Regions from separate parts of the Homo sapiens genome. Here all the other regions are reported to be linked to region 1. The links are microRNA targets in miRTarBase. Many come from high-throughput screens and were not tested one by one. Region 1 holds a microRNA gene; each other region holds the end of a gene's coding sequence.
Evidence for each region. Region 1 holds the annotated microRNA hsa-miR-603 (CACACACUGCAAUUACUUUUGC, at 2,923-2,944, opposite strand). A microRNA usually pairs through its seed, bases 2 to 8, with sites in the 3' UTR of a target mRNA and lowers its output. Matches are read on the target gene's strand: a 7mer-m8 pairs with bases 2 to 8, a 7mer-A1 pairs with bases 2 to 7 and ends in A, and an 8mer does both.

Region 1 (8,140 bases):
GTCCCCACTAGACAGCACACATTAGGTTACTCATCTCTTTCATTCCTTCTGTCTCCCCAGTGGCTAACATCATGCCCAGAACAGCAGAGTTGGTATCCAAATATTCACTGAATAGACAAATAAGACTCAATACAAGGGACTTGCCACTTGCCTAGTGCCCACATTGTGTCTGCCACTTGCCACATGCTTTCGATAGATTATCCCTTATCCACACAACTCTGCAAGCTCTGTATTATTTTTGGACACTTCACAGATGAAGGTCAGTGGGATTAAACAGCTTTCTCTAAGCCACACAGCTCATGAGTAAATTCAAAACCGGGTCTGTGTAATTTCAAAATTCCTGCTTATCTCACTCCAAACACTGCCTCTCCCTGGTCTGCACACAATGGTCTGAGTTCTAGGTTTCCGGCCTCACAGAGTAACTCTCATCCATCTTCTACCTGACAGTCTTTCAGAAATGAAGACTTTCCAGAAGCCAGTGGTCAGTCTGACCCTTTACACCGCCACTGTGGCTGTAATGTGCTTCTCCACAGTGTTTTGGCCTGCTCCAAAGTGGCTCATGCAGACCCTGCCTCTCCTCGCTACTTTCACACACAGCCTAAGAGGTGGCGTCATCACACTCCACAGCATCTCACCCATGACGGCGTCCTCGAGCTGCACAGACTGTGCGTCCGTCCTCAAAGGACAAAAGGCATAGGTCCATAGAGCTGCTGTCCAAAAGCATCACAAAGGGAAGCCAGCAAGCACTGCTTTCTATCACAGGGGAGAAGTTCCCAGCTGATTGCTGGCAGTGCTGCCACTGTCTTTTGCCCGTCAGAGGGTGAGTCAGAGAGAGGACTCAGGAAAACCTACTGTATTAGGCCATTCTCATGCTGCGATTAGGACAAACCTGAGATTGGGTAATTTATAAAGGAAAGAGGTTTAATTGACTCACAGTTCTGCAGGGCTGGGGAGGCCTCAGGAAACTTACAATCATGGTTGAAGGGGAAGCAAACACGTCCTTCTTCACATGGCAGCAGCAAGGAGAAGAATGAGTGCCCAGTGAAAGGGAAAGCCCCTTATAAAACCATCAGCTTTCATGAGAACTCACTCACTATTATGAAAATAGCATGGGGAAAACCGCCCCCATGATTCAATTACCTCCCACCAGGTTCCTCCCACAACATGTGGGGATTATGGGAACTACAATTCAAGATGAGAAGTGGGTGGGTACACAGCCAAACTATATCATCTGCATAGCAGGTGGCCTTGTCTCCCCATTCCTGGGCTCCCCCAGGGCAACCTGTCCCCCATCCCACTCACGAGGCTTCCCTCTAGGAAGCCGCTAAGAAGAGACCTGCCACCCACCTGCTTGCTCCACTTTGAGTGGGAACCACACCAGGGTCAACCTCAGAAACATCTGAAAAGTTGGAAGTAAATTCAGCAGTCTAGCAAAAGCAGTCTTCTGCAACTGAGGAATCCAGGTTGAGCGCTGCCATGACCTGTATTTGAAAAGCTGCCACCTTCCAATCAGGCCAGAGTTAAAGAGCAATTTGAAAAGAGCAAGAATTTCCAAGCTATAAAACTAGGGACATGATTCTAAGAGGATAAAACATTTTAAGATTGGTTTAAAAGCTTTTGAAAAATTTAAGGCCAGGCATGGCAGCTCACATCTATAATCATAGAGCTTTGGGAGGCCGAGGTGGGAGGATTGCTTGAGGTCAGGAATTTGACACCAGCTTGGGCAACACGGGGAGACCCCATCTCTACGATTTTTATTTTTTTTTTAATTAGCTGGACTTGGCTGGGTGTGGTGGCTCATGCCTGTAATCCCAGCACTTTGAGAGGCTGAGGCGGACGGATCACAAGGTCAGGAGTTCCAGACCAGCCTGGCCAATATGGTGAAACCCTGTCTCTACTAAAAATACAAAAATTAGCTGGGCGTAGTAGCACATGCTTGTAGTCCCAGCTACTCAGGAGGCTGAGGCAGGACAATCACTTGAACTTGAGAGACAGAGGTTGCTGTGAGCCGAGATCGCGCCACTGCACTACGGCCTCGGTGACAAAGTGAGATTCCATCTCAGAAAAAAAAAAAAAAAAAGCTGGACTTGATGGCATGTGCCAGTAGTTCCAGCTACTAGGGAGGCTGAGGTGGGAGCATCACTTGAGTCCAGGACTTCAAGGTTACAGGGGCTATGATTGTGCCACTGCACTCCAGCCTGGGTGACAAAGCGAGACCCTGTCTCTTAAAAATTTTTTGTTTTTAAATTCAAACCCAGTTTTCCTCAGGACTCTTATTAACAGCTATCTAAGGAATAGGAAGGGATGCCCTCAAACCGGGCAGAACGAGATGGAATTCTAAGTCATTTTGTCTTTTGCATTTCTGAAAAGACTTTCATTTTTCAAAGGACATCAAAACTGAAATGCCTTATAAATCCCTTTGTGTTTCTGCGTTCTGTTCAATGGCATCAATAAGATGGATGATCAGCAAATGGCATCAAACTCCATTTGTATTCTTATTAGAATAATAACACGTAAAATGATATGAAATGAAACAGCAGATTCCAATGACCTTGTAGCCCAATTCAATTACTATTTCACTAAATAACGACAAAACTGACAGTCCTCAAGCTGCTGAATTTATGAATTAAATTCAACTTCTCTTCTACATTCTGAGCAGGACTGAGTGGAAAAAGAAATGGTCAGTGAGGACTGGGGAGGAGTTTCCTTCTCTTTGCTATTTAATGCAACATCGCCAAGCCCACTGGAGGGAGGGGTATGGAAAGACAGTTTAAAAAGGAATATCAGGACCAGAAGGGAGAACTGATGGCCAGGGCCCTTGCTATAGTTTGCTCCTGCAGATGAGACACTGCTTTGGAAAATTTTATCATTAACCAAACTGCACTGATGCTAAAAGTCAATAAAGCCAAGTATTAAGTTGGAGCAAAAGTAATTGCAGTGTGTGCCATTACTTTTAAATGGGAAGCACTGCAATTACTTTTGCACCAAACCAACAGCATCAATCTTGCCTGCATCTTAAGCAAAGGCTTAATGAGAAAAAAAACATACTTGAGACTACTAAAGCATTATACAGTCAGTCCTCATTACTAGCAGATTCTGTATTTGTAAATATGCCCATCACCTAAAATCTGTTTGTGACCCTCAAATTAATACTCCCAAATGTTTGCAGTCATCATAGACATGGCAGGACAGTGGACAACTGGAGTTTCCCAACAAGCACGTTCCCAGGTGGCGTCTAACTAAACAACACTCTGCTTTTTTGTTTCAGTTTTCATACTGTAAGGAAGCACCCTTTCCACAGTCTTTTTAGTGCCACAAGTTTCGCATTTTTGTGTCTTTTTGTGTCTGTGTGTGCACCTGCATGCGTGTATGTGTGTGTGAGTGACTTCACTATTTAAAATGGTCCAAGCCAGGTGCAGTGGCTCATGCCTGAAATCCCAGCACTTTGGGAGGCTAAGGCAAGAGAATTGCTTTGTGACAGGAGTTCAAGACCAGCCTGGAATATACTAGTCATGTTCATTGGGGAATTAAGACCTCAAAAACATAGCCAGACCCTGCCTCTACAAAAAAATAAAATTAAAAAATTAGCTGGGCATGGTGGCGTGTGCCTGTAGTCCCAGATATTTGGGAGGCTGAGGTGGGAAGATCACTTGAGCCCAGGAGTTTGAGGCTCCAGTGAGTTGTGATTGTGTCACTGCACTCCAGCCTGGTCAAGAGGGCGAGACCCGGCATCTACAAATTTTTTCTTTAAATAAGAAAAGAGAATAAATTTTAAAAATAAGAAATAAAATGAAATGGCCCTTAAGTATGGTGTGGAAGTACTATTTGGCATTCCTAGGCTCAAGAAGGCTGTGATACACCTTACACAAAAAATAAGTGCATTAGATAAGCTTAGTTCAATGCTAATGAATCAATAATATATATTTTAAAAGGTGTCTTCAAACAAAAACACAGGTAAAATAAGGATTTTTGTTGATTGGTTGATAAAAAGGTAACCAAAGACTCACAGGAACCTAACCCTGTATTTCCCCTAGGAAATTCAGTATTAACTAATAAATTCAGGACTCACTAATGCAGTATTTAGGGCAAGTTTATAGAACATCAATACTGTGAATAACAAGAATTGACTGTATTTTCAAACTGCAGTAAAAATGCCATAAGTATGTAAAATAGGACTTGTAGGAAGACAACAAAGTATATTTAGATGTAGCAGGTTCATCTTTTTTACTTTTTTTGCAGATGTGAGAACTTGACAATTTCTAACCACTGGACTTAGAATGGAGAACACAGCCAATCTGGGTGACAGAGCAATATTCCGTCTCAAAAAAAAAAAAAAATTAGCTGGACTTGGTGGCATGCACCAGTAGTTCTAGTTACTTGGGAGGCTGAGGTGGCTGGTCATGAACTCCTGACCTCAAGTCTCCCAAAATGCTGGGATTATAGGTGTGAGCCATTGTGCCTGGCCAGCAATGGCAATATTTTCTTACTACCAACTCTCAGAAAACATACATTATTCTCCATAATTATCCAATAAATTTGGACCCATCTGAAAATAAGCATCAGTCACTTTTCAGTTTATACATGTATGCTATTAGTCATTACTCTGGTAATATGTGAAATGTAAATCATTGCCTTATTACTTACTGGATATGGGCTGTTTTTTGGTTGAGGTATGCGTCTAATTTATTGGTACTACATTAGAAAATGCCCTACACCAAATATCTGCTCTGATTGGACTAAGATCCTACATTTTTATATTTGGGAATATTGCTCAACTTGAGAAAGGCAAGATGTCCCAATCCCTGCAACAGTAACTTGGACTTTTTTTTTTTTTTTGAGACAGAGTCTTGTTCTGTCGCCCAGGCTAGAACACAGTGGCACGATCTCGGCTCACTGCAACCTCCATCTCGTGTGCTCAGGCGATTCTCCAGCCTCAAGCCTCCCGAGTAGCTGTGATTACAGGCATGTGCCACCACACCCGGCTGATATTTGCATTTTTAGTAGAGACAGGGTTTCACTATGTTGGCCAGGCTGGTCTCGAACTCCTGACCTCAGGTGATCCACCCACCTTGGCCTCCCAAAGTGCTTGGATTACAGGCATGAGCCATGGCGTCCAGCCAATAACTTGGACTTCTAATTAAAGATGTGACGTGGGCCAGTTATGCATAGAGGTAAGCCAAGGGCCTCTTATGTGACACCCTCACTGGACTGGGACAGATTCTGCCATGTCATTTACCTTGAGTACTCCAAAAGGAAGAACATAAAAATAATAATGTAATGAAAGTAGCAAGGGTATGTTTAACTTCAAAGAAGATCATTAATACTTAGCCTGGACTGTCTGAGAATATGACTAGAGAAAAGGGAATGAAGGAAAGAGGAGTACTTAATCTATGCTTATTGTTCAAATGCTCTTCTCTGCTCACACTTTGCAAATGTTAATAAGAGTCTGATCTCTTGATAGTAACCATAGGGAAATTTATCAGCCTCTAAACATAATTTCTCCCTTTTCTCTATCCTGAGTCTCCAATGAGTTGGGCAAAATGCAGAGGCATCTCATTCATTCAGAAAATGCCATCTTTTCTCTCTCTCATATATGTAGTGTTGCTAAAATTAACTAAAAAATTAACTAGTTTTAATTTTCTTCTTCTTAAAGGCTTCTGTCCATAACTGTCCAAGGCGCAGAAGGGCACAGACTTTTACGCAATGAGAGTCCCCTGACATTCTGCTGTCTAAGACTTCATTCTCAGAGTGCAAGGACCAGAGAAAGAACTGGGGTGGATGCTATTCCACGTTTGCTCTTTTCATTAAGACTTTTCAAAGAAGACTTTATTCCAACATGCATTTAAAAGAAAAAGAAATGAAGAATTCTTCCTTCAGGCGAATAACTCATAAGGGGAAAAAAACCCTTGAATATGATTTATTTCACAGGGATCATTGAAGAGCACGTGAAAACCGATCTCTGTTGAAATTCCGAAATACTTGTTAATGCCACCTTGAAAGAAGTAAAGAATTTCGAAGTCAGTTATTAAATAAATCCATGACTATTTGAACAGCTATCTCAATTTGGCTGGAATGTGGCTAGAATTCGAGTTATGTACATTGAGTTTGAGTAGAATGTGGCTTTGACAATGAGTCAACCTTAGTATTTTCTTCCCAACAATGATGGAGCGGCTTGGTGAATGCAGAGCTCCCTAGAGTAGCTTTTAGAACTCGTACTCTCCTTTCAACAACAGATTGCTCAGTTGAGAAGTTTTAGAACTGAATGAAAACTCAGGCATCATTTAGTTATTTGTGCAACTTGAATATTTTTTCCAATAAGATAACCAAGGCCAAAAAAATTAAGTGGAAAAAATGTCACACATCGAGTTAGAAAGTAGAACTAATCTAGATTCAAGCACTCCTAGCTACTAGTCCAGAGTTCTTATTACTAACCTGGACCTGCAGTGAGCACCACTGACATCCCTAACTGAGTAGTGACTTCCCTAGTAATCTCCCTTATCTAATTTTACTGCATAAACACATTGCTATCTGTTACAGGAATGGGATCTTAATCATGTAGAGAGAAGGGAAAACAAGGCATGAGGAACCTTTGAACCTTATTGCTAGGCTTCAAGTAGAGAGATGTCAGGTTGTCTCCCGAGTCCACCCTTCCCACCCAATTTCCTACTCTCACGAGCATCCCATGGGCTTTGGTCTCTCTGTGCCTCTTGTAACCAACCTAAAATGGAGATGCATAAAAGTGGCCTTTTATGCCACTTTTAAGTGGGCTATCTTATCTTGTATAAGGCTAGGTCATACTTTTGAATAAAACAATTTTTATTTGAAGAGGCTGGGACCAAGAAATATATATAGCTAGAATGGGCTGCGTACAGGGGGAAAGTTTATTAAAAGGCCTGCGTGTGCACAGTTTCATTATTCTCACTCTTTTTTTTTTTTAAGACAGGGTCTCACTCTGTCACCCAGGCTGAAGTGCAGTGGCACAATCTCGACACACTGCAGCCTCAACCTCCCCAGGCTCAGGTGATCCTTCCACCTCAGCCTCTCCAGTACCTGGGACTACAAGTACATGCCACCACGCCTGGCTAATTATTATAATTTTTTGCAGAGATGGGGTTTTGCCACGTTGCCCACGCTGGTCTTGAACTCCTGGGTTCATGTGATCTACCCACCTCGGCCTCCCAAAGTGCTAGAATTACAGGTGTGAGCCACCGCACCATCCTATTCCTACTCTTCTTTCCTTTAGTAAAGAGTAAGTATAAACTAACAAATTGGTTATAGTCAGAACTGAAATTAGCACTTATGATGTGGAATCTCAATCAAGATTCAGATAGCATGTTGGTTATATTGTGAGGTTTTTTCAATATATATGACCATGAAATTTCACTCCTAGGGAGGTGATTACTAAGTTCAATGTTACTGAGTTTCTTACTCAAAAACTGTGTTGATATTTTTCCTTTCAGAATGACATATTTTATGTCAATCAAAATAGAAAATAAGTCCCAAATTGAATGGCACTTAGAAAAATAACTTTGATGCCAAATTGGAAAAGAAAGCTTCAAAAGTACTTTGAAAATGGAGCCAAACTACCAATTAAAGGAAAAATTATAGACAAATTAAGAATATGCTTTTTCCAATGACACTGAACCTCAATCATTTTCTCCATAATGACTTGAAAACCCTGTAATTCTCATAGAAATCTGGCAGTCTCACCCATTTCCCCTCAGCAGAATAAATAGTGAAGTATATGGTGTGCTTTGTAGATCAAAAAAATATTGCTGTATGATATAGGTGGGGGGACACATTCCACAGTTACTCCCAAATATCATCAAAAGAAAGAAATCTGGCTGGGTGCAGTGGCTCATGCCTATGATCCCATCACCTTGGGAGGCCAAGGCAGGTGGATTACTTGAGGTCAGGAGTTCGAGACCAGCCTGGGTAACATGGTGAAACCCCATAACTACTAAAAAAAATAAAACAAAAATTAGCTGGGTGTGGAGGCAGGCGCCCGTAATCTCAGTTACTTAGGCGGCTGAGGCAGGAGAATCTCTTGAACCTGGGAGGCAGAGGTTGCAGTGAGCTGAAATCGCACCACTGCACTCCAGCCTGGGCAACAGGGTGAAAAAAAGAAAGAAAGAAATCT
Region 2 (8,140 bases), not on the chromosome of region 1:
TTCCTAATGACGACACAGGTCTCCCAGCCATGCGTTCCCACATAACTTAGAAGCACCCATCCCATTTTTATTATTTGCTCAGAGCCTGCTTTTTCAGTAGGCCGTAAACTCCATGAGGTCAGGTACTACATCTGGCTTATTCTCTGATCATCCCTAGAGCCTTGTGTGGTTCATGGAGAAGTTCAAAACATGTTTGTTGACGGACTTACTGACTGACAAAGTCTGCCAGCCTTATGTTGGTCTACAATGTTACACTCTATCCCATGCCTCCTGCTGAGTTTTACCCTCCTGCTGTGATGCAGGCTGTGGGATCTGGAGCTAGACCCCCTCAGTTGGAATCCTGGCTGTGCCATTGCCTAGCTGGGTGCCCTTGGGCTTGGTTTTCTAGTCTGTGAAATGGGGATAGCAACAGTACCTACCTATGTGGCTTGTTGCAAGTGAGGCCATCTCTGTATGTCACTCAGAGAAGTGCCTTGGATTAGTCAGTTCCATCAACATCAGGACTAGGCACGCACCTGGTGAGGTCATGTGGGGGTGGTGGTTGAGAGCCCAGTGGGGCTCTGCAGCTAGAACATCTGATTCAAATCCACCAGCCACTGTGTCACCTTGGCCAAGTTCTTTAACCTCCTTGTGCCTCCGTTTCCTCATCTATAAAATGGAGCAATAATAATACATATCTAACCAGCTTTTGAGCAAGCTGTATGTATGTATGTATTTATTTATTTAGAGACGGGGTCTTACTCTATTGCCCAGGCTGGAGTGCAGTGGTGCAATCTCGGCTCACTGCAACCTCCAACTCCTGGGTTGAAGGGATTTTCCTGCCTCGGCCTCCTGAGTAGCTGGGATTACAGGCACGCACCACCATGCCCAGCTAATTTTTGTATTTTTAGCAGAGATGGGGTTTGGCCATGTTGGCCAGGCTGGTCTTGAACTCCTGGCCTCAAGTGATCTGCCCTCCTCCGCCTTCCAAAGCACTGTGATTACAGGCATGAGCCACTGCCCCCCGCGAAGCTGTATTTATTTTATGTAAAGTGCATAGCCTAGGCCTGACACGTAGTAGGTCCTCAAAAGAGTCAGGCATTTTTCCAAGCCATTCAGAAAAAAACAACTCCTAGATTTTATCAGCCTTCCCTCCCACAAGGCCAGTGTGTCCCAGCTGACAAAGTTGCTGGCCGTGCTGACGTGAGGAAAAGCAAGGGCCAGAGAGGGCCAGACGCCTACCCTGGGTCACACAGGAGCAGTGGCCAACCTAGAATAGGCTAGGTCTTCTGTCTCGCAGCCTGTTCATCCTGAGTGCCTCCCTGGTTTCCAGGCCCTGCTGGCCTGCCCTCTGACCCTAGCCCCCTGGGAGCTCTATCCCAGGCCCATGGGGTCTGCAAATCTGGTCTGGATTAGACACGCTGAGAAGCAAACGCCAGCCCCCCCAGCCGGCTGCCCAGTGGGACCTGTGCTCACAGCTGCTGAGGCTCATAGGGACATAAATCATGGTGGCAGGAGACTCGGGGGATGGGACCACCTTAGCCTCCTAAGGGGCACAGGGGCCTGAGAGTCACGAGCAGAGGCACCTGGGTCTGCTGGGGATATTTTCCATCGTCTGTTGGACAAGCTAAAGCCAGGGTGCATCAGAGGGGGCCAGGACACCATTTGGCAGCCCTCGCATCACAGTAGGCCAAGATCCCAACTTCTTTTTAACTTTTCATTTTGCAATCATTTACAACATGCAGAAAAGTGACAAAAGTGGTGCAGAGAACTCCCATATACCCTGTACTCAGATTCACCACATTTTAAGTTTGTCATATTTACTCTATCCTTTTCTCTCACACATATATTATTTCTCTTCTGAACCATTTGAGAGAGCACGTTACCTACATCATACTTCTCCTTAATAGTACTTCAGGATGTATTTTTTTTTTTTTTTTTGAGACGGAGTCTCACTCTGTCACCCAGGCTGGAGTGCAATGGTGCGATCTTGGCTCACTGCAACCTCTGCCTCCCGGGTTCGAGCAGTTCTCCTGCCTCAGCCTCCCGAGTAGCTGGGATTACAGGCGCCTGCCACCACAGGGTTTCACCATGTTGGCCAGGCTGGTCTCGAACTCCTGACCTCAGGTGATGCGCCCACCTCGGCCTCCCAAAGTGCTGGGATTACAAGCTGAGCCACCACGCCCGGCCTAGGATGTAATTCTTAAGCACAAGGATATCCTCTGACACAATCAGGGTGCTGTTAGCAAATACAGAAAATTTAACTTTGATGCAATACCTTAATCTATTGTTCATATCCCAATTTTGTGTGACCATGTCTCAAAAAAAAAAATTGTCAACTCTACCAAGAAGGTCCCCTGTCACATTTTCCCCTCTGCAGTACAGGATCCAGTTCAAAGTCATGTATCGCATTTACCTGTTCAGGTCTATACTTGATATCACAACTACACGAGGTAAAATATACAGTCGTAAGAGACACAGATGGGGTTGAACAAAGACATCCAACTTCATATGTACGTCCCATGAACCAATGTTTCTATAAATCCTCTAATTATATGGTGTTCCACAATAATGCATCACGCTCCTGACTGTGTGGAGGTAGTTAAGAGTTAACTTGCCAGGCCAGGCACAGTGGCTCACACCTGTAATCCCAGCACTTTGGGAGGCTGAGGCTGGAGGATTGCTTGAGCCCAGGAATTTGAGACTAGCCTGGGCAACATGGCGAAACCCCCTCAAAATAAAAAATTAGCTGGGCATCATGGTGCACACCTGTAGTCCCAGCTACTCAGGAGGCTGAGGCGCTAGGACTACCTGACTCCAGGAGGTGGAGGCTGCAGTGAGCCATGATCGTGCCACCTGCACTCCAGCCTGGGTGACAGGGTGTAACCGTGTCTCAAAGAAAAAAAAAAGTTAACTTACCAAATATGCCATAGTCTTCAGCACTCTCTTTTTGTAGTGCTTCATTTTTTAACCTAATAAAAGCCTCATAAAATGGGAGTGGCCTGGGACAATGAGGGGAACCTGAAGTGCTGTGGGTGCAAGAGGTCCTGTGTTCTCAGCCCTGCTCAGCTCCAGATGCTGTGCAACCGTGGCCCATCACCGCTCCTCTCTGAGCTTCAGGTTGCCATGGGTGACCTCTGAGGCCTTCCTGCTCATAACTGTGGAGTCAGAGAAAACAGCCCTGCATGGCAAGGAGGGAGATTTGTGTTCTTGGTGTCCCAACAGGGCCAAGGACCTGCTGGGGAACCCCAGGCAGGTTGCCCTCTGTCTTGTCTCACTTTCTTCATTGTGAAATGATGAACTCTGAGATTATTCTTGTGCTGCTGCTTCATGTGTCAAGACTTGCAGGGAGAGTGTAACCCTTTGGGGTCCAAGGTGGCCTGGCTGAGTCGGTCATTCCAACCCCTTCAGTCCTGGATTTCTTCTCCCTGAGCAGCTTTACTCCTGTGGCCTCAAGTTGGCCTGGAGAAGCTTGGCTGGGCTGGACCATCCCGGAGGCGACAGGCATGCTGGGGGAGCGGACAATGTTACAAAATGTTCCCCAGAGGAGCTGCCTATATATGCAGACCACACCTGTGCTTCTCCCCGGTCACGTGTGTGGGCTGACCTTGCAGCTCACAAAGGCTCATGGGCATTAACTGTCCATTACCAGGAAGATAGCAAGCTGCAAAATATGCATAATGGAGCACTATGCAGCTATGAAAAGGTGTGAAACAGCTCTGTAAGCAACCAAGGGTCTCCAAGAAGTACAGTTAAGAAAAAAAAATCCAGTGCAGAGAGGAGTGTGTGAAATGCTACCACTTGTGTGGAAAAACAATATCTATGTAATTTGCCTATATATGCAGACCATCTCTGCCGGAATCCATAGGATCCTGGTTACCTTAACATAGCAATTGCCTCTGGGGACTGGAGCTGGTGGCTGGGAGAGAAGGAGACTTATTGTCAGTTTATTCTTTTTTGTGTCTCATTCAAAGGAAAGAACCGGTATGTGTAGATGTGCAAGAGGGGCTGGCTCCTGGGAAGCTGCTAATTGCATTTCTTGATCTCCATGCTGGGTGTACAGGTGTGCTCAGCTTGTGAAAATCCATTGAGCTGTACCCTTACACCCTGTGCACTTTCCTGAATGTGTCTTATACTTCCATAAAAAGTGTAAACTTGGCCGGGCGCAGTAACTCATGCCTGTAATCCCAGCACTTTGGGAGGCCAACATGGGTGGGTCACCTGAGGTCAGGAGTTCGAGACCAGCCTTGCCAACATGGTGAAACCCCGTCTTTACTAAAAATACAAAAATTAGCCAGGCGTGGTGGTGCACGTCTGTACTCCCAGCTACTCAGGAGGCTGAGGCAGGAGAATCGCTTGAACCCGGGAGGTGGAGGTTGCAGTGAGCCAAGATCACGCCACTGCACTCCAACCTGGGTGACAGAGTGAGATCCATCTTAAAAAAAAAAAAAAAGCGTAAACTTAGCATGGTTTAAATGATTTGTTAAGCGTATGTGTGCTAGTTTAACAAAAACGCTGCAGAGCTGGGCGCAGTGGCTCATGCCTATAATCCCAGCACTTTGGGAGGCTGAGGTGGATCGCTTGAGCCCAGGAGCTGGAGACCAGCCTGCATAACATAGTAAGAACCTGTCTCTACAAAATAAACAAATAAATAAAATTAGCCAGGCCTGGTGGTGTATGCCCGTATTTCCAGCTACTCCGCAGGCTGAGGTGGGAGGATCACTTGAGGACAGGAGGTTAAGCCTGCAGCGAGCTATGACTGTGCCACTGCACTCCAGCCTGGGTGACAGAGTGAGACCCTATCTCAAACAAAACAACAAAAAATACTCGGTGGGATTATCGTCTTCACTGTGGCTGTCTCTGGGATAAGTGATATTTCTAGAGTCTTATAGCATTTTGAATTTGTTTTACAATGAAAGCACAGGCAGAGAAACCTATAAATATTTTTTCAGAAACAGTTATCAGTATAGAAGCTTTTTTGGAAGGACACTCAGGAAGCTGCCTCTGGGGAGGGGCCTGAGGAGGTCTGTACTTTTCACTGCATACCATTTGATACAACTTGGATTACTTACCAGTGCATACAGGGTCTATTAAAAACTATCTCACAAAGCAAAACAAATACTTATCTTTCTGTTCTAGCTGCTCTTACTAGTTAGAGACTGAGCCAGGGAGGCCCAGAGGGGTCAAGCAACATCTCTGGGGTCACCCAGCAAATCTGGTGGCGGAGTGGGCCTCCAGCCAGAGCACCCAAGTGTCTGCTCTGCCCCCACTCCCAGGCTTCCTGCCATTGACAAGGCCACAGTCCTTTTCCTGTGGCTTTGCCAGAGGCTGGCTGTACCTGGGAGGGTAGGCGCAGGGGGAGCAATGTGCTTTCCTAATCAGCTCCCAAAGGGGGAAGCACAGCCACGCTGGGACACAGGATAAGCACGACCAGTGTTCCTGAAACAGCGGGGAAGTGAGGTAGAGGGTGCTTGGAAAGCTCTCCTGGGTGGGGGACCCCGGCCCCCTGGGGCCCTCCTTCCTCTACTTCTTACACCAAAGGAATTAAGCATGGTAATTTCATGGCCTGCTCCAGCCTAGGGACTGGCAATTCCACAACTCCCTTGATCTCCCTGGGCCTCGGTTTTCATCTGTGAGGAAGACCAGGTTGGTCGGGCTCATTCCTGTGGCATCTGGCACAGTGCCTGCCACACAGAGGGTATTGACAATCTGTTTGTCAATTTGCAAAATCGGAGCCACAATTCAGGCTCAGATGGTCAAACGCAGGGGAGTGGGGTAGAGGCAGAACAGAGGGGATACGAACGTGGACTCTGGGGCCAGAGTGCAGTCAGTAAACATGAAATAGATCACTTGAGCTCAGGAGTTTGAGACCAGCCTGGGCAACATAGTGAGACCCTGTCTCTAAAAAAATAAAAATAAAAGTGTTTGTTAAATAAATAAACTGTTGAAATAGGCATATGAATGTACCTTGCTGAGGAGAGGGTGGCTGCCTGGCTGCCCTGGCCTTTCCCTGGCTCTCCCACCCTCGGGCCTCTCGAGCTTCTCTGATCCTGACCTCACAGGGACACAGCCCCAGCCCGAGAGCCAAGAACTCCTAGCTGCACTGATCAGCTGACGCATCGCTGTCTCTGCTGGGTCTGCAGTGGGGAAGACACCAGCTCTCACCTCCCAGGGCTCCTGGGAGTGTAATTGGGGTAACAGGTGCTGGCTTTCCACTTGGGGCATCTCCAGGGCAAGGAAGGAGCTGCTCTGGGCTTCAAAGGTGGACGGACCTCAGGGTGTCACCCTGCCACGTGCCTCTGGGTGTCATCGGTCTTCTAAAGCATTTCAGCTAACACAGGGGTAAGAATATTCCCCTTTAGCATGCACTCATTTGCACTTGTGGAAAACCACATGGCTTGTTGGTGATCGCATCAAAGAGGGATGGGTTAAAGGATGGCATGTTCACAAAATGGAATAATAAGCAGCTCAGGAAGAAATGAAATACCCTTTAGGTACTGACTTGGGATGATACCAAGCTAGATTAAGGAAAAAAAGAAGGAGCCAAAAGTGTGTACGATGTGCTGTCATTTGTGTATTTGCCTGATCATTCATAGTGAATGGGACATCACAGGAAACTGGTGCCCTAGGCTGCTTGCAGAGAGGAGAGCTGGTGGCTGGAGGACAGGGGCACGGAGACTTTTCAACACATACCCTCTGGTACCTTCTGAGTTTTGAACCATGTGAATGAAATGAACACAGGCCTTATTCAAAAATAAGTAAAATTAAGATTTCTTTACCAACCATATCAGACACCTAACAGTTGTTAAGAACATCTGATAAACAGCAGACTGAGGAAAGTTTGGTTATGGCGCCCGGAGAGGGGGCTCTGCCTGCCTTCCCCCGCCCCACCCCCACCCTTCCAGGGCTCAGGGCAGCCCCCAGAACATCTGTGCCTCTCTCTAGGTCCAGGGGAGGGCCCACCTCTGACCTCCGATGTCCACGGGACTCTCCTCAGCTCAGAACGACGTCTTTTATTTAAAAATAGCTTTTATTTTAAACTCACCAATTCTCTCTCACACACACTCACACTCACGCACAGATACACACACACCCTGTCACCAACAGTCTTTGTTTTTCCAAAAGTTCTGCCTTGTCTCTGACCAGCCAGAGCTGGGCAGGCTGAATGGATCCTCACAGCTCTCCAGGATCGGGTGGAGATGTCCCGAGGGCCCTGCCCAGAGTGTCCCGGAACAGGCCATGGTCCCCCGGTCCCTACACAAAGAAGGGGTGGGCTTGGCTCCTGGGGTCTTCTTCCCTGTCCAGCCAGTGGCTGGCTCCTGGCCTCCTTCTCCAGGGTCCAGGCTCATCTCCGTGGCCCTCGAAGGGGGGCCACCCCCCTCACCTTCAAGCAGCTGCCCCCCAGGTCACGACGGCCACCCTGCAGAGGGGGAGAAAGAGTATAAAGAGGTTCGATTAGGCCAGTGTGAACACTGGAACTAACCTCTGTATCCCTCAAGAGGGATCCTGATCAATAAATCACAGTTCAGCCACACGATCAAGTTCTCTGCAACAGAAAGCAGAAGAAACCCTTTCTGGACTGATACAGACTGCTGCCAAATGACAATGTTTAGGGACAAAAGCAAGGGGCAGGCTGAATGCGCCTGTGTGCTGTGATTGCTGGGGAGAAGCACACACGGGAAATTGTGAGTGGGTTTCTTCAGAGAGGAATTTGATGATGGAGAGAGGATGGGAGGGAGGCTCTCTCATGCTATACTGTTTTTTGAGATGGAGTCTTGCTCTGTTGCCAGGCTGGAATGCAGTGGCACAATCTCAGCTCACTGCAACCTCTGCCTCCCGGGTTCAAGTGATTCTCCTGCCTCATCCTCCCGAGTAGCGGGGACTACAGGGGCCCACCGCCACACCCGGCTAATTTTTGTATTCACGCTATACTTTTTTACCTTTTCTACTTCTTTCCCATATGATCTGTTGCTTAAAAAAAATCCAATATATTTTAAAGCATAATATTTTACACGGGCAAAACAAGCACACCCCACAGTGGTCCTCCCCCTGCCTGACTGCATGCCTAGCGGCTCACTCGTCCACCTTTAAAAGGGGACTCGGTTTCTGGCCTCCTTGACTTCCCTCAGGGCGTCCCCTTTCCCAGGAATGTGCTCTCAGG
Region 3 (8,140 bases), not on the chromosome of region 1:
ATAACATTTATACCAAGTTGGCTATCCAAAAGAAAAGGGACATAACATTCTAAATAGTTAAGATGAATTCATTAGGAAGGAATCATCACTATACAGCATTCTTGGCTTCTTTGGAATGATTAAAGTGCATAATATCAATAGGGTATTAAGAATATTGCATAAAAGTTTGCAGTCCTCAGTGCCACTAACAGTCACAGAAATACTAGCACGGGGAAAGCAGCCCTATCCCAAAGGTAGAACTATCCTGACCTGTTGCTGATGATCCTTTCTTTAAGCACCACCGCTGTGGTAAGGAGCTGGAATAGAGGCAAAATTAACAAAAACCAAGGCACTCCATCTGACTGTATCTGATCAAAAGGAATTATCTTAGGTCTGGAGGGAGTCAGATATAACCTTTTTCTCATTTCCTTTGACACTTTTTGTCTAGGTAAATTAACTGAGGATAGACAAGAAGTACACTAACATAAACAACTTTGCCCTGTCTAGTTAAAAAAAAGTGGCATAATCAGGCTTTACCTAAACTATGTTTTAGTGATTTATTTCCATCTAATTAACATCAGAGAAAATGCTTTCAACACTTTCTTCCTGAAATTTACACACATCTGGTGCATGGAGTTTCACAGATGCTAAAATTCTCATGAGTATTCAGATAAGACCTACCATTAGCTGGTTGAGATGAAGACAAATTTAGTTTATATAAAGGCTGAACAGTCTAATTCTGTAATCTTTTACCCTCTCCCAAAGAAACAATTCTAGCAATGTACCTTTTCTTTTATTCTTAAGCCAAAGGGAAGAAATGGAGAAAAGAAGGTTTAAATGGAAAAAGTAAAAGCTGGGACCTACTGAAACTATTTGTTTATGTGTTTTTGGAAATAGTGAAAAATGAAATTATAAATGATAAAAAGGCACTTTTCCATAGCATTAGATCTAGATATAAAATATTAATTTAAAAAATTTCCTGAAAGAGAAAGTAAAAACATAATTTTATTAATAAATGAGGCTAGAATGGCATAAAAATAAATGGGGATTAAAGAAGTAATTAGGCCGGATGTGGTGGCTCATGCCTGTAATCCTAGCACTTTGGGACGCCGAGGCAGGTGGATCACTGGAGGTTAGGAGTTCGAAACCAGCCTGGCCAACATGGCAAAACCCCATCTCTACTAAAAAAATACAAAAAAAATTAGCCGGGCCTAGTGGAGGGTGCCTGTAATCCTGGCTACTTGGGAGGCTGAGGCAGGAGAATCGCTTGAACCTGGGAGGTGGAGGCTGCAGTGAGCTGAGATCGCACACTGCTCTAGCCTGAGAGACAGAGCAAGACTCCATCTCAAAAAAAAAAAAAGAAGTAAAGTAACTAGAGCACTGGGACCTGGGACCATCCACAAATGATATTGTAGATATTATTCTGATATTTACTGCATTATGAGCATTATCTCTACAATTTTGCTCTAGTGACACAAACAAGCAGAGAAGAAAACCTCTTTTTAATACATGTTATGAGATTCTACTAACCCACTTACTAGGGTATATACTATGAGTTATTTTTCTAACCTATGGTCTTTCTTCATGGAGTCCCTCCACACAGTCTAAGGCATGCAGATATAAGACAGCTGTCTCGGTTAGGGATAAAACCTGTGGTCATAAAGCAGAGGAAAGCTAATTAATTTAAAAAATCTATTAGGAAACAGATATTGGAACAGAAATCTTCATCAGAAAAATGAAAAATTGTAAGATTACTATTTCTGGTGAAAATGTATAACCATGGTGATTTGAGACTTTAATTATTAAATCGTTTTGTCCTGGTCATTATTTGTTGATGCATCTAACAGATTCACTTTCCTAAAACAAGCATTTATAAAGGCTTAAATGGTCAAAACGCATTTATAAAGGCTTAAATGGTCAAAAAGAATTATCTTAGTTCTGGAGGGACTCAGATACAACTTTCTCATTTCCTTTGATACTATTTTTCCTAGGTAGATTAGCTGAGGTTCTGATGAGCAAGAAATGCACTAGAATAAAATTCCAAACTACAGCACATGTGATATTACAAAAAATAAAAATAAAAGGCAAGGAAGGATGAATGGAAGAAAGGAAGGAAGGGAGAAAGGAGGGAGGGAGGAATAAGGGAAGGAGAAACAAAGAAGGCAGGGAGGAGGGGGAGATGGAAGGGAAGAAGGGAGGCAGGGAGGGGAGGAAAGGGAGGGAGGAAGGAAAGTCCTTCATTAATACTTCTTCTATAATAAAGCCCTTAAAAACTTGTTCTTTTTTTAAACTATTTGTTTTAAAACAGATTTGCATTGGCTAAATAACATGATACTTTAATCATAAAGGTAACATGATCAAGCTTAGAGGCAAAATATGACTTTGAATTATCGTCACCCATGTTGGTGTGGATATATAATGGAATGACAATAAGGAAACACACACACACACACACACACATACACACACACACACAGAGAGAGAGAGAGAGAGAGAGAAAGAGATAAGCTCCAAGCATTAATGTGAGTTGCTGAAAGCAAGAACACTTAAATGTAACAATATAAAGAAGAAAAGGTGGCTCACAGTTTATTTAGGTCCTTCTGCCATAAATACATTTAATAAATTGTTGTTTCTATGGCCTTTGCTGGCTCACTGAGTCTCTCCCATATGTAGCTATAACTTGTAACAGTAATCAGGAAATTGCATTATTAGCACAAATATCAACCACTGAGCTTCAAAGAAGATGAATACTCTTCGTAGCCAAATTGTATTTTCAGAATGTTGTACTTAACATTGACCTTTAGGGGTAAGGAACATTTAACAATGTAAAAAAAACAACAAACCTATTATTATTGAACAAGAATATGGTAGCATAGCACAGCCCTTGTATAAATAACCACAAAATTTATGAGAATAAAAATCGGGTTTTCTGTCTCCATCCGATCAAACCACTACAGTTCAGGTATATATTCTGTTCTAAACTTAGATATTATAAAACAGAAAATTGGTCCCAGTGACTTGGCATTGCCAATTAGCATTTGATAACAATAAACCTCTTGCTAAACCACAGAAGTCAGCACACAAGCCAGTCGCCACTTCATCCACAGTGCAGTATTAACAATCATCCTAATTAGAACTTGAACAGATAGATTTCTTTAGTCTCCTATGTAATCTCTTAGAAAAAAGTTCAGAAAATTCAAAAATAACTTACAGATTTGTATTTATACTACTTTTTATACCTGCTGGGTTTGCTTTGTCTGAAATTTCAACCAACCCTACTTTAGGGTTAGAATTTTACATTTTCAAACTGAAGCACTGGATTGTGTGGCTGATCCTCCTCATAACCTGAACTATACTGGGTAATTTTTCCCAATAGGGGCTGGGGGAGAAGAGATACACTGAGGAAAATACTTTTGGTTCAGAGAATTTATAAAGTAGCTCTGGATATTACAAGATGGGAAAAATGTTATTAAAATTACAAACATGGGTTTTCTTAGTGTCTTTATAAATAAAAGGCATAGAATACAGAAAGCCAATTAATAATAACAATAACAACAATAATAAAATATTAAATATATAGTGAGCAAAGACTGAATGGCTCATTCTTGTGAAACACCATTTGACGCCATTGCCTCAATGGGTTTCCTGACTCTAACACTTGGCTGAGTGAAAGCTCCAGCAAACACACAGTAAGCTGCCTTTAGCCCACTACTGACATCAAGGAACTAACTGCCTGATGGAATGGCCACAGATGAACAGGTCATTTGTTTCAAAAGATACTTAAATACTCAATAAAGACATAACAAACCCCACCCCCCCTCACTGTTATCAGACGCCACGTTGTGGTAGAACATCAGACAAACTCACAAATTTACCACAAAAATGTGTGGCAAAAAAGAATAGTTTATATATATGTATATATATAAATTTCTATATTTATGCCAATGTACTCACTCAGTACAAATAGCAAAATAGTATACCATTTCCTAAATACAAAATATAGCTTTCCAAAAAAATGAAACACACATTAGATATAAACCATCCAAAACTTGAACGATTGAAAACTGTATTCAAAATTAAATGACCCAGAGTAGGTCTCTTTCTGAAAAGTTCCCTTCATATCGGCAAGAAGCCTGTACTACTGAAAACGTAATTCAATGCCTCTCAATCAGAGAGAGAAAGAAAGAAAGGGGTGGAGGTGGAGGGAAGAAAACATGAGAAAAAAGAGAAAAAGACAAAAGAGCACATTCAAAGAACAAAGGAAGATCATCACAAAACAAAAAGAAGGAAAAATCTGGCTGTGTAAACAAAACCAACACCACAATTCCGCACAGTTCAACTAAATGTACAGGATAGAAAAAAAAAAAAAAAAAGAACAGAAAAGTAGCCTTCAACAATTAACAGGTTATTTTTTGTACACTTAAAAAATAAATGAAACGGACAAGGATACCAAAACATTATCTCAACACATAGAAGCCACACACACGTTGGCCTTACACTGCATTGACAGCTTTCCACATGCCAAAAGGAAAATGAGACATAAGCATGTGTCCAGACACAGGTGGTAGTGAGAAGCAGGCATCCCACGGGTGGCAAGAACACCCAAAACTGTATAACTAATGCTACAACTGCCAAGTTCTGGAGTGTGTTATTTTGCTCTTTATAGATGTAACACAAGTTAATTCTTCATTTTAAGTCAATGATACAACCCTGTAAAGCCTAAGGCTTGTGGGAACCATCAGGTAAGTGACCACTTCAAACTGTAAAGCACTGAGGTGACAAGTGAATTTATACTCACTGCAGATCAGGGAGAAGTGATATTTCAAGAAATTTTAGTTTGCCTTTTTTTTTTAATTAAAATTTATACTGTTTCCTATTAGAGGGAAAAATTTGAAGACTTCAGAACAGCACCGTTCATGGGGAAAAATGTGTTGTTTCTCAGGAATCAACTCCTAATAATTCCTAAGACAGTACTCTCTGCCCTGTGCTGCAGGATTGCTAGGTCACCCTAGATTAAAGTGGCCAAAGATGCTACAGGGTCATGAAGCCAGTAGTATATTAATAGTTCTCTAAAGTAAAGTGAAAAAGAGGTGAAAAGTAATATAGATATATATAAAAAGGGAATACCAGCCTAAGACTGGGTTAAGAAGAAAACATTCAAATTTTTCTGTCAATTTAAACTACTGTAGGAGGATATCAGAACATAATTTATCATATATTATCCCCTTCATTTTTTACAGATAATTATTTTTCTATGCACAGTTATGGCTAAACCCCTTAGTAGAAACCCAGAGAACTAACAACTCTCTGAAAAAATAAAATCAAGAAGCATTCCAGCTGTTCCCAGTTTTATAAGTGTATCATCTGCCTTTGTGTTAAATCAAGAGTACTTTTATCTGCACATACAGTTTACTTGTTAGAATGTTACCCTTCAGTTTCTCCAATAAAACTGAAAAAAGATTCCTTCACTTTGGCCAACAGCTGTGCCTTTTATATTGAAAAAAATCACAGCCTTAGTTATTATTGAACTTTACTTTTTCAAAAGCCATTACTTGACTAAAACAATGCAGGAAAGAAAATAATGAAGAACAAAAGTAAACATGATATATTATTTTCTAATAGCAATAATAACTGAGTGGTCCAGCCTTGAATTTAAACTGTACGTTTAAGGAAATTGCGCCTAGGAAAATAATAACAATTAATTCTGCCAGCTGGAAACTCAAATAGATTCTCAGTCATCACTGTTATTAGGAATATAAAATATGAAGATGTTAACATTGGTGGTTAGTTACTGCAACAAGCAGCATAGGTGTGCTCTTTTGCAGTCAGAGTAAAATCTATCAGTTTACTCAAACACAGTTTTTTATATTTTGTTTTGTTTTTAAAGTAATAATTCTCATGGAACCACAAGATCTCAGGACATCTTGGAATCAGGATTTTCTTCGTGGAATTTCTAAAAAAGAGAAAAAGTTTAATTTAACTTACTAGGGAGGGAAGCATTTATAAAGTTTCTGACACCCTGAATGATCCTAAAGTATATTATGGTACTGTAAGTAAAACTTTATCATATTTGATCTTCCACAGACTTTTCTGACTCAATATTTATTTCTGGAGGAAGGGATAAGTGAGGCATGGTTATATCCAATATATAGTACAAAGGAAACACATTTTGCATACTCATCAGATGTTTTGTTATTCCAAGGCAAAGAAGCTCAGAGGCAGAAGGAATGTCCAATATAGGTTGAGTATCCCTTATCTAAAATGTTTGGGATCAGAAGTGTTTCTGATTTCTTTTTTGGATTTTGGAATATGCACATATACACAATGAGATATCTTGGGGATAAGACACAAGTCCAAACATGAAATTCACTTCTGTTTCACATACACCTAAAAAAATCTATCACAGCTGAAGGGAGCTGGAAGGATCTTTTTTACCCTTGGGGACACCAAATAAACTGCATGTTGTGAGCCTGACTTTTGACTATGACCCTATCATATGAGGTTAGGTGTGGAATTTTCCACTTGAGATGTCATGTCAGCACTCAAAAAGATTCGGATTTCAGAGCATTTTGGATTTTGGATTTTTGGACTAGGGATGTTTGGTCTGTATTTTTTTTTTTTTTTGTATTTTTTAGTAGAGACGGGGTTTCACCATGTTAGCCAGGATGGTCTCGATCGCCTGACCTCGTGATCCGCCCACCTTGGTCTCTCAAAGTGCTGGGATTACAGGCATGAGCCACCACGCCCGGCCTGGTCTGTATTAACTATATGACCATAAGCTATCATTCAGAATAATTTTATTCAGAGTAAAAAAGTATCATCTTGTGAGAAAGCCACATTTTAAAAGATTAGAACTACTATTACTTAACCTAAATCTGTTAAGAAGAATAAAATCTGATGCTTTTCAATAAGAAGCCAAAATGCAATACTTACATATCCAGTTAAAAGGAGCCAGTCAAGTTGTTCCCTTGGTTTTGCAATGAAACAAGCAAATCAATCTTTTCGATGTTCTGGTTGGTGTTTATAGAGGATGCCAGTGGAGAATTCTCTGGCATTTGCTGAGAAAGAAGTGTTGTCACAGGTGGCTGGCCCTCGTTTTGTGGTTGGCCTGGCTGACTTATGGCCATCAACTGATCAGGCAATGTAGCTGGTCCAGAGGTTAAAAGCTGACTACAGTCTGCAGAGACATTGAAAACAGAAGCTTAAAAGCTGACTACAGTCTGCAGAAACATTAAAAATAGAAGCTATCTGATTAGTAAAGATTCATGAAAAGATATTTATTAGTTGTTGGGGAAAATTCATTACTGCATTCTCCTTGTATATTACTAAAAGTTAGGCACCTGATAGTCCAAGAAAAAGGTTTTCACAGACTGGCACTGGAATTCATCTTAGGTTTCCTTTAAGCAGTCTAAAAATACAACTTTGCTTAAATATCAAAAGTCCTATATAAATTCCTTGGTATATAAACATTAAAGATGAGTTTCTACCTCCTTAGAAACTACTTACTTCAACTGGGTAAGGTATTATCTGTCATTCTGACTTCATTTTCCTTTTAAGTTTATAGCTTAAAATGGCAAACACACATTTTTATACATTGCCATATTTAATCCTCCCCAAATCCATGTAAAGTATGTAATATTATCACCATTTTAAATGAGAGAATTGAGACCCATAAAAGCCAAATAACTTGTACAAGATCTTATAGTCTATAGGTGATAGAGTTCTAACTACAATCTGTACTCTTAAAACAACTATACAGGACAGGTGTGGTGGCTCACGCCTGTAATCCCAGCACTTTGGGAGGCCGAGGCCAGCGGATCACTTGAGGTCAAAAATTCAACACCAGCCTGGCCAACATGGTGAAACCCCGCCTCTAACAAAAATACAAAAATTAGCTGGGCGTGGTTGTGCACACCTGTAATCCCAGCTGCTTGGGAGGCTGAGGCAGGAGAATCACCTGAACCTGGGAGGCAGAGGGTGCAGGTGCAGTGAGCTGAGATCGCACCACTGCACTCTGCTTCCTTCTAATAATAATAATGACCAATTAAGTAATGAAAAATTAGAGTTTCTTACTATTTTGAATGCCAAATAAGAACATTCCTGATGTCTGCTGAGATGAGCCAGGAGAATTCTGCAGTTGGTTCATTGTGCCTCCTGCTGT
Region 4 (8,140 bases), not on the chromosome of region 1:
TATATAAATGAAATCAAACTGAGGGGATTTTGATTTTTTGTTCATCTCCATAATTAAATATATTACTGGAATTCAGTTTATTGATGCATACCATAATAAAATTTACCCTTATTATGATTGGAAATTGTGGGAGAAAGTATAAACTCATTACATTTTGTGTAAGATACATAATATGAAATTATCTACAAAATCAGTTTGAACAGTAGGTTTTAAAATGTATTCTGAGTAGTCTAAGCTTTATTATTTGAAATAGAATGTTTTAAAACAATTTATATTGTAATAACAACATATATTTTAGAGTTTTTAGAGTATAGGATTTATTAAATTGTCTCTTAAAATAGGGAAAATAAATTCCTCTTTGAGTTCTTGAATAATTGTTCTATTATTTTCTTTGGTCTCATTTATAAGAGAGATTGTATTAGCAGTTGGAGTTCTAAGGAGTAGACTGCAGTGGACTTTTCAGGGCCAGTAGTGAGACAGAATAAAATGGTTTTAGGAAAGCCTTCTAATGTTATTATGCAACCAAATTGTTTAAATTAGGGAAAACTGTAATTTATTCATGGACCCTCTATAAATATCTGACTTAAATATTTTTTCTCCTAGCTATTTATTTGCCAGTATCACATATGGCTGGCAGCGGACACAAGGGGTATCTTGGTACTGATACCTGGAAACCCTATGCTCAACATCATTGTCAGCACTTTCATATTTGTTTGTGTGGCACATGAAATTTCTCAGATCACTAATGATCTTGCACAGATTATTATTCCTAAAGATAACTCATCTCTCTTGAAAAGGTTGGCATGTATAGCTGCATTTTTTTGTGGACTCCTCATCTTATCATCCATTCAAGATAAATCAAAACATTAGGTTCCAAAAATTCTAAAAAACCTAAACTCTTCAGGCTACCTTTGTGTGTCTCTAGAAGAGAAAAGCATCTATCTGGAGATATAAATGTGTATGTAAATATAAACGTTTGTGGCAAGAGGACAGTTCTGTGACATCTGTTGAACATATGTGGTTGTATATATTGGAAATGTACATATCCAATATGAAATACTAAAACAAACAAACAAACAAAAAACCAGAATGCATTGTATAGGATTGCATGTGAAGTCTTTTCTACTGAATCTATATTTCCATTTGTAAGTGATTTTAAGTTAACATATGAAGGCAGGGAAATGATTACCTTTCCAGTAAAAAGTATAGATAATTTAATTAACTTAGTGACACCACCAAGTGTTTTGATATAACTAAATTTGTGGTAATAAGACTGTCTGCACCTGTATTCATTGTGGAACTTCCTCTTTCATTGGAAACTTTCTTACTCAAGAATGACGGCAGTATTGTTTTCTTATATGTGCAATGAAGTGGAATGATAAACAGTATGCCTTTAATTTATATGTGTTCTTGTTCTGATGTTGTTTCCTGAAATGATTTTTCTTCCTAACTGTGGTTTTCGGGTATGCAAGCCTAAATCTTTGTACACTTTGTCTCACAGAATAGTTCTGAGGCTCCATGACAGGGTTTTGTCATTGTTGATGTTATTGTTGCTTCGTTTTATAAAAAAGCCAAAATTTTTTTTCCAATCCAAACGTTCACCTGTTTCCTTTCCTCAAGCTATACCAGTGTAATACCAGTTACCCTGTGGATCCATTTAATATGTTATCCCCACTAATTAATTTTCGTATATTATTTCCAATATTTGGAAAGCTCTTTATAGCCATTTGGTATTTCCTATTACCCACCTCCTATTTTAAATATTTATCAGTCTAAACTTGTGCAGTGTAGTAAACATGCAAGTTGTTACGATTGAGCTGTATTACCATAAGTAGAATTTTAAGTAAACTGGTGAATTTGGGCAATAAATGTTTTTGCTTTTTGTTTGATTTTTTTTTACAAGCTAACTGTTAGAGGTATACATTTATTTATCTGTTGTACAGATTTGATTATGATTTTAATGTTTGAAAGATTGCACTTGTTTGCTTTTACTATATGTGGGGTAAAATATATTTTCTGTTCACAGTATATGAAAATATGGAGTAATTTAAACAGTAAATAAACATTCTGTGGATGCTTATTTTTGTATTGGCAAAGTATCAATTAAACTATATGTGTTCTTTTTCAAAAATGCTGGATCCATTCATGATTGGTTCAAATATCTAATTATTTCCTCAACTTAAATTTGCTTTTTAAATTGCTTAATATGTAGGGGTAGGTTACCAAATGATAGTTGGATAAGGAATCATTTAGTTATCAGAGCTTCAGAGGGTCATCTGCTTTCCACCAAGGAAGTTTAAGCATTATGGTTCATTAGTGATTTTGCTTGAAGATTTTAAAAATGTACTTATTATTTATTTAGCACTGGATTTATGTGCTACTGATATACCTCCATTAATAGAGGAATATTTCTTGGACAGAGATGTGTGTTCTTTCCTTTTCTCTCTTCTTTTGCCCTTACTTAATCTTTTGACATTTCCCAGATAGACAATTGTAATGATTCATTGCTCTGCCTCCTAGACTGCAGCCTTATAAGTAGAGAATAGTATAGTTATAAATCAAAAACTTCCAAGTACTGTGATCACATTATTCTTGTTCATGTAGCTTGCCAATGAGTAGAGTGCATTTTAATTTAGCTTGTAAGTTTTATCACCTGAAAAAGATTCTTCTTGATGAAACAATTGAAAAAGAAAGATGACCAGTCTCCCTGTGTATTTTGGAAGCACTTATGTCTTCAGTAGGGATGCCGCAGTGAATATATGCTTTTCTCTCCTATTTGAACTGAAGCCTAAAACTTACCTGGTGAGCCCTGTTTCTTCATCACTTGTTCTTATTTAATATAAAGCACTATTTTTTACATATAATTATATAATAATCTGTATAATTTAAAAATAATTTATTTGTAGTTAAAAATATTTTTTATATTTGATTTTCTTAATTAGTCTTAAAAGGTTATTGTGGAAGTTGCCACAATGATAGCACCTATATATACGGTAAATGTCTTAATATTTTATTTTCTGCATCGACTCAGATACTGACCATTTGCATTACTCAATCATACCATTCTTTAGAATAAGATTTTTAACAGGATGTTTAGATATGCTAAAGTTGAGATAAAACCACAGAGGTTCTCTAAATTCAGATTTTTCTGTAATAGAAATCACAGTCAGAAATCTACCATCTGGCTTTAAAAGGTACTTGCTTGACTGAATTCTACCTCAATCGTTCCTCCTTTCCTTTGCCAAAACTTCCCATTTTTGTGGGTAGCCAATAGAAGCATTAAAAATTCAGCCCATCTAAATTAATAATGTTTTACAAGGATGTGGGACCCAAGTTCATTTATTATTCTATTCTCGAATGACTTTATACTAAAACCTTAAAACGGGAATGCATCCTGGATATAGTCATTGATATCATAAACTGGATGTGTTCCATGGCTTGCATTGCAGACAATTCAGTGTTTTGTGTAATGAATTGGATGTACCACATGGGAGTCTGTTGCATAACAGGAGATTAGGTAGTATTGTACTTACAGATTTTTGGAACAGTTGAAAGAAATTCAATTCTTCACATCATTCAAGAGAAAAATTACCTTTTTAGCTTAATAGTGAAGACTGAAATAAAGATTGACAATTTTGGTTGGCAGTTCAATCCATCTTACCACTTTGAATATTTCTCTGCAAAGACATTCAAAAATGATTGCATACATTTATGACTTAATTTGTTCATTCTTGTGTTCATTCCCCAAATCATAATTGTGATTTGGGGAAACTTATTTGGCAAGGTGTATTCTGGCTCATTTTCTTATTCTAAAAATGGTTTCCAGAAAAGGAAGTGGTCGTCCAAACTATATTCCCAAAATTGTGGTGTTTGATGACTGATTTCCAGAATAGATTTCTTATTTTATTTAATTAATTAATTAATTTTTTGAGGCAGGGTCTTACTCTGTCACCTAGGCTGGAGTGCAGTGGCGTGATCTTGGCTTACTGCAACCTCCGCCTCCTGGGTTCAAGCAATTCTCCTGCCTCAGCCTCCTGAGTAGCTGGAATTACAGGTGCCTGCCACCATACCTGGCTAATTTTTGTATTTTTAGTAGAGTTGGGGTTTCACCCTGTTGGCCAAGCTGGTCTCCAATTCCTGGCCTCAAGCGATCCACCTGCCTCAGCCTCCCAAAGTGCTGGGATTACAGGCGTGAGCCACTGTGCCTGGCCTGATTTTCTGATTTTAAATCTTACAAAAATTTAATGGCACTATTTGTTCTGCCTTTCCATATTAATAGTCATAGTAGAAACAAGGAGACACAAATGGAAGCTATTTAACTGGCATTCAATGTGGTACCAGAACCTAAATATAACAATATTGGAATACCCAAATTCTGTATATATGTCTGTGTGTGTGTGTGTGTGTGTGTGTGTGTATGTGTGTGTGTGTGTGTGTATATATATATGTATATATATGGAATAATTTCTTTTACAATTACGCAGACATTTATGTTCAAAAGTAACCATTATGAACAATTTGGGGGAAATATGAAATGGAATAAAATACCCTTTGTCTTTCAGGGATTCAGCAGTAAAATTGTCCTGAGCACCTGACATTTTACATCTTAGTAAAAAAGATACTAAAATTGTTTTGCTTTTGTTTTGTTTTGTTTTGAGAGGCAGTCTCGCTCTCTTGCCCAGGCTGGAGTGCAATGGCGCAATCTCGGCTCACTGCATCCTCTGCCTCCCAGGTTCAAGCAATTCTCCTGCCTCAGCTTCCCAGGTAGCTGGGATTACAGGTGTGCACCACCATGCCTGGCTAATTTTTATATTTTTAGTAGAGACGGGGTTTCACCGTGTTGGCCAGGCTGTTGTCGAATTCCTGACCTCAGGTGATCCACCTTCCTCGGTCTCCCAAAGTGCTAGGATATAGGCGTGAGCCACCGTGCCCAGCCAAAAATGTATTAAAATTCTTATTTGGAATTCAAAGTAAAACTAAGAAAAATGGAATAATTAAATGTATTTTCCCTTTATTTTCAAATTAAAATATCTTCAATATTATACATGCCTATGTTATATTAAAAGCTTATACTATCATTCAGTAAAAATAAAGCTTGATTCTATATCTGGCAGTTTTGTTGGTTTGTTTTGTTGTTTTAATTCTTAGGCTTTGTCTTTCTCTTTTCTATCCATCCTTAGTACTTGATTTTTGACTGTAGCTCTTTCATAAGTAGGTTAGTATTTGTTTTGTTTTTAACAAGTCACAGGGTCAAAGTCCTGCTGATAGACGGAATGAATATGCCTTCCTTCATAAGACTAGACTAGACAGGTTTTTGAAGATAACTAATATTGGGAGTGGCATGATGTGTTTTTCTTAGGTTAGTCAGGAGAAAATAGTGGCAGTTATTTCTGGTGTTGAGAGAAAACTAGAACTAAGAATTCAGCACTTTCTTTCCTTGACCCCTTCCATTTTATCCCCACCTCTAGACCCTGTCACTGGGAGAGACAAAGTGATGGAAAAACATTTAGTTGAAGTCTGAGGAATCCAGTACTTCCAAAGTACGTAATGCATAAGGCACATGGAACTGGAGCCCTTTCTCAGAGACTACAAAATTAAAAATGGAAACTATAAAGAAGTAATACCTGGGCCAGAATATCCAGGAAAAGTTTTAGAGTAACGGGAGAAGTGGGATTTGTAAAGTTGTATATTTGGATATATTATTTACACTAATATCAGTGTGGAATGGATGCAAGAATATATAGATTAATGGATAGAATCAGCATAAAAACAGATTTTATCAAAAGATATTAGAATAAGGTAATGGTTTGATTTCACATTACTGGGGAAAGGTAGAAATATTCTTTAAATAGCCCTGGGACTATTGCTTAATTGAGGGGTGAGAGTGATAAATTCCCATTCTTACTCTGTATACCAAAAGAAATATAAAATGATTAATAGGTTTAAAGACATGTAAAATAAACAGTAGAAAATGTAGGTGAACATCTCATTCTTAGATGAGAAATGACCTGTTAAGGCTAAAAGGTAAATCCAGAATTGCTACATCTATTACGTGAAAATTTAAAATTTCAGTATGCCCAAAAACATAATAGAAAAAATACAAGTGGGAACATTTTAGAACATTAATATTTGATGAGAATTTAATGTCCTGGTTCGTGACCAGCCTGGCCAATATGGCAAAACCCCATCTCTACTAAAAATACAAAAAATTAGCCAGGTGTGGTGGTGGGGGCCTGTAATTCCAGCTACTTGGGAGGCTGAGGCAGGAGAATCGTTTGAACCCAGAGGCAGAGGTTGCAATGAGCCGAGATCACGCTATTGCACTCCAGCCTGGGCAACAAGAGCGAAACTCTGCCTCAAAAAAAAATTAATATCCTGGGTATATAGAGAGCTCTTATAGTTTAGAAACACCAAGCTGTTTTCCAAATTTCACTTGGTTCCTAATTCTACACAGAAGGTCACTTCATTCAGATACCTCAATGTTCATTACATAAATAATTTAACTTGGAAGAACATCAGGAAACCACAGTACTCAAAGTTAGGCTTTCTATGGATGCTTTTTGGGAATTGCGGGGAGGGCAAAGATTTTTTAATGGCCACTGTTATGCCTTCCTTAAACATTTTCCAAACTAAAATTAATTAAGACTAGGTTATATTGAGCAGAACTTTGGAACCTAAATGGCCCATCTGTCTGTGTGAGAGCACAGATTCAATTTTTTTTTTTCCTAAAGAGAACCTCGGTCAAACTCTAGAGTATTCTCTCAGAAACTACTGATTATTAAACTCAAGTTTGCCTAAAAGATGTCACTCCTACACCAGCTTAATGTCTCATTAAGACAGTTTTTCTTAGAACCCTAGGGTGGCTGAACTCCAGTCATGAACCGTCAGCTAGCTAATATCTATCTTCTGTGAGTTTGACTGTGGTTAACAGTATTTATAAAGGAATGTTAGGGATTTGCTTTTTATCACTTCCTCAGATACTTTAGAATGTACCTGAGAATTAAGTCTGGCAAGCACCTAGCAAAGACCGCCTGGACAGTAACTTCCTGACTTACCCCTAGAATTTCTCTTGAGTTTGAAGCCATTGGTTAGCATTGCAGGACATTCTATAAACAATTCTATGAAACTCATCATTGTGTCAACTGTAGGAATGTTGATTACATCACACAATGGGCTCTTTTTGTGGAGTCTGAAGTTATTCTGACCTTACTGTAATATTTGCACCTCTTGTAAACAGTTCATTTGCTACTATCTTAGGTACATTGTGAGTTGGCTTTTTATGTTTGCCGATAAGAAGCAAGAGCTAAATTTGTGCTCCATCTAGAAAACAGGGCACTTTGGTATTGTTTATATTAGTCTCATTCTTGATCCCTTTTTCCTTCTCATATACTTCAGATGATGTTATTTGGCTATATTTTGCCTAGCCTTATAAGCCATCTTACATTCTTTTTTGAAATGAGGCAGTCTGGTAGTCCTAAGTGTTTCTTCAGACCACACCAGTCAGGATGATCAAGAGTCATAGTATATACAAATGGTAGTAGTAATATTTTTGCCTCACTGGTTATGTTTGAAAATCCTAGTCTTCCAAGTCATTTATCTCCTCATTAGGGTCCCTGAGTTGCTCACGAAATGTCCCTATAACAAATGTTCACAGTTCTCTGCAATTTATGAAAATAAGGCCGAAAGTTCTCCTTATCCTGTTCACTTCATGTGTTTCTTTTCAGTCGATACAGTTTCCTTTTTTTTTTCTTTGAGATTACCAAAAATTCCAATGGTAGCTATGCCATTTCCTTCTCTAACTGCCAATTGTTTCCTCTTTTGAAATTGCTGCTCTGTGGACCAGATGTCAGGCTGCAAACTCAAGGTGTTGGTACACACTTGCCCTTATGACGTAGCAATAACCTCTTCTATGGATGCTTCTTACTGCCATGTCAACATGTTCCAGTCTGGGAGTGGTTTCATTTTAGACCAGGTGGTCTCCTACTGGGATGTAGTCTCAGCTGACCCCCTTTTTTTTTATGCCAGAGAATGCTGGAGGATTCAGGAAAATTCCTGTATTTTACAGCTTAGTTTTCCTGGCCCTTCAGAAAAATAAGAGACACCGGAACAACCTGATATGATGGTACCTAGAAGGAGTAAG

Region 2: the mRNA of TCF15 is a reported target of hsa-miR-603. Seed matches in the 3' UTR shown: 7mer-A1 at 7,062-7,068 and 7mer-m8 at 7,039-7,045.
Region 3: the mRNA of NFAT5 is a reported target of hsa-miR-603. Seed matches in the 3' UTR shown: 7mer-A1 at 2,440-2,446 and 7mer-A1 at 594-600.
Region 4: miRTarBase lists CASD1 as a target of hsa-miR-603. The part of its 3' UTR that is shown has no 7-base or 8-base seed match.

What each region holds. Positions count from the first base shown.
Region 1 is chr10:24,270,549-24,278,688 of GRCh38, reverse strand. MIR603 (microRNA 603) reads right to left here and starts at 3,004; the gene lies at 2,908-3,004. All of the region lies in intron 2 of KIAA1217, which reads right to left.
Region 2 is chr20:597,267-605,406 of GRCh38, forward strand. TCF15 (transcription factor 15) reads right to left here. Exons shown (of 2, transcript NM_004609.4): 2 at 6,991-7,399. The coding sequence ends at 7,325. Among named protein-coding and RNA genes, the nearest start is that of TCF15, 9.0 kb to the right of the region's middle.
Region 3 is chr16:69,694,152-69,702,291 of GRCh38, reverse strand. It overlaps NFAT5 (nuclear factor of activated T cells 5), which reads right to left. Exons shown (of 15, transcript NM_138713.4): 13 at 8,053-8,140; 14 at 6,913-7,156; 15 at 1-5,932. The coding sequence ends at 6,921. Among named protein-coding and RNA genes, the nearest start is that of SNORD13H, 10 kb to the left of the region's middle.
Region 4 is chr7:94,554,889-94,563,028 of GRCh38, forward strand. CASD1 (CAS1 domain sialic acid O acetyltransferase 1) reads left to right here. Exons shown (of 18, transcript NM_022900.5): 18 at 604-2,131. The coding sequence ends at 870. It overlaps LOC105375404 (a long non-coding RNA gene), which reads right to left and starts at 3,607. Exons shown (of 4, transcript XR_007060433.1): 1 at 3,534-3,607. RefSeq lists an enhancer at 1,222-1,271.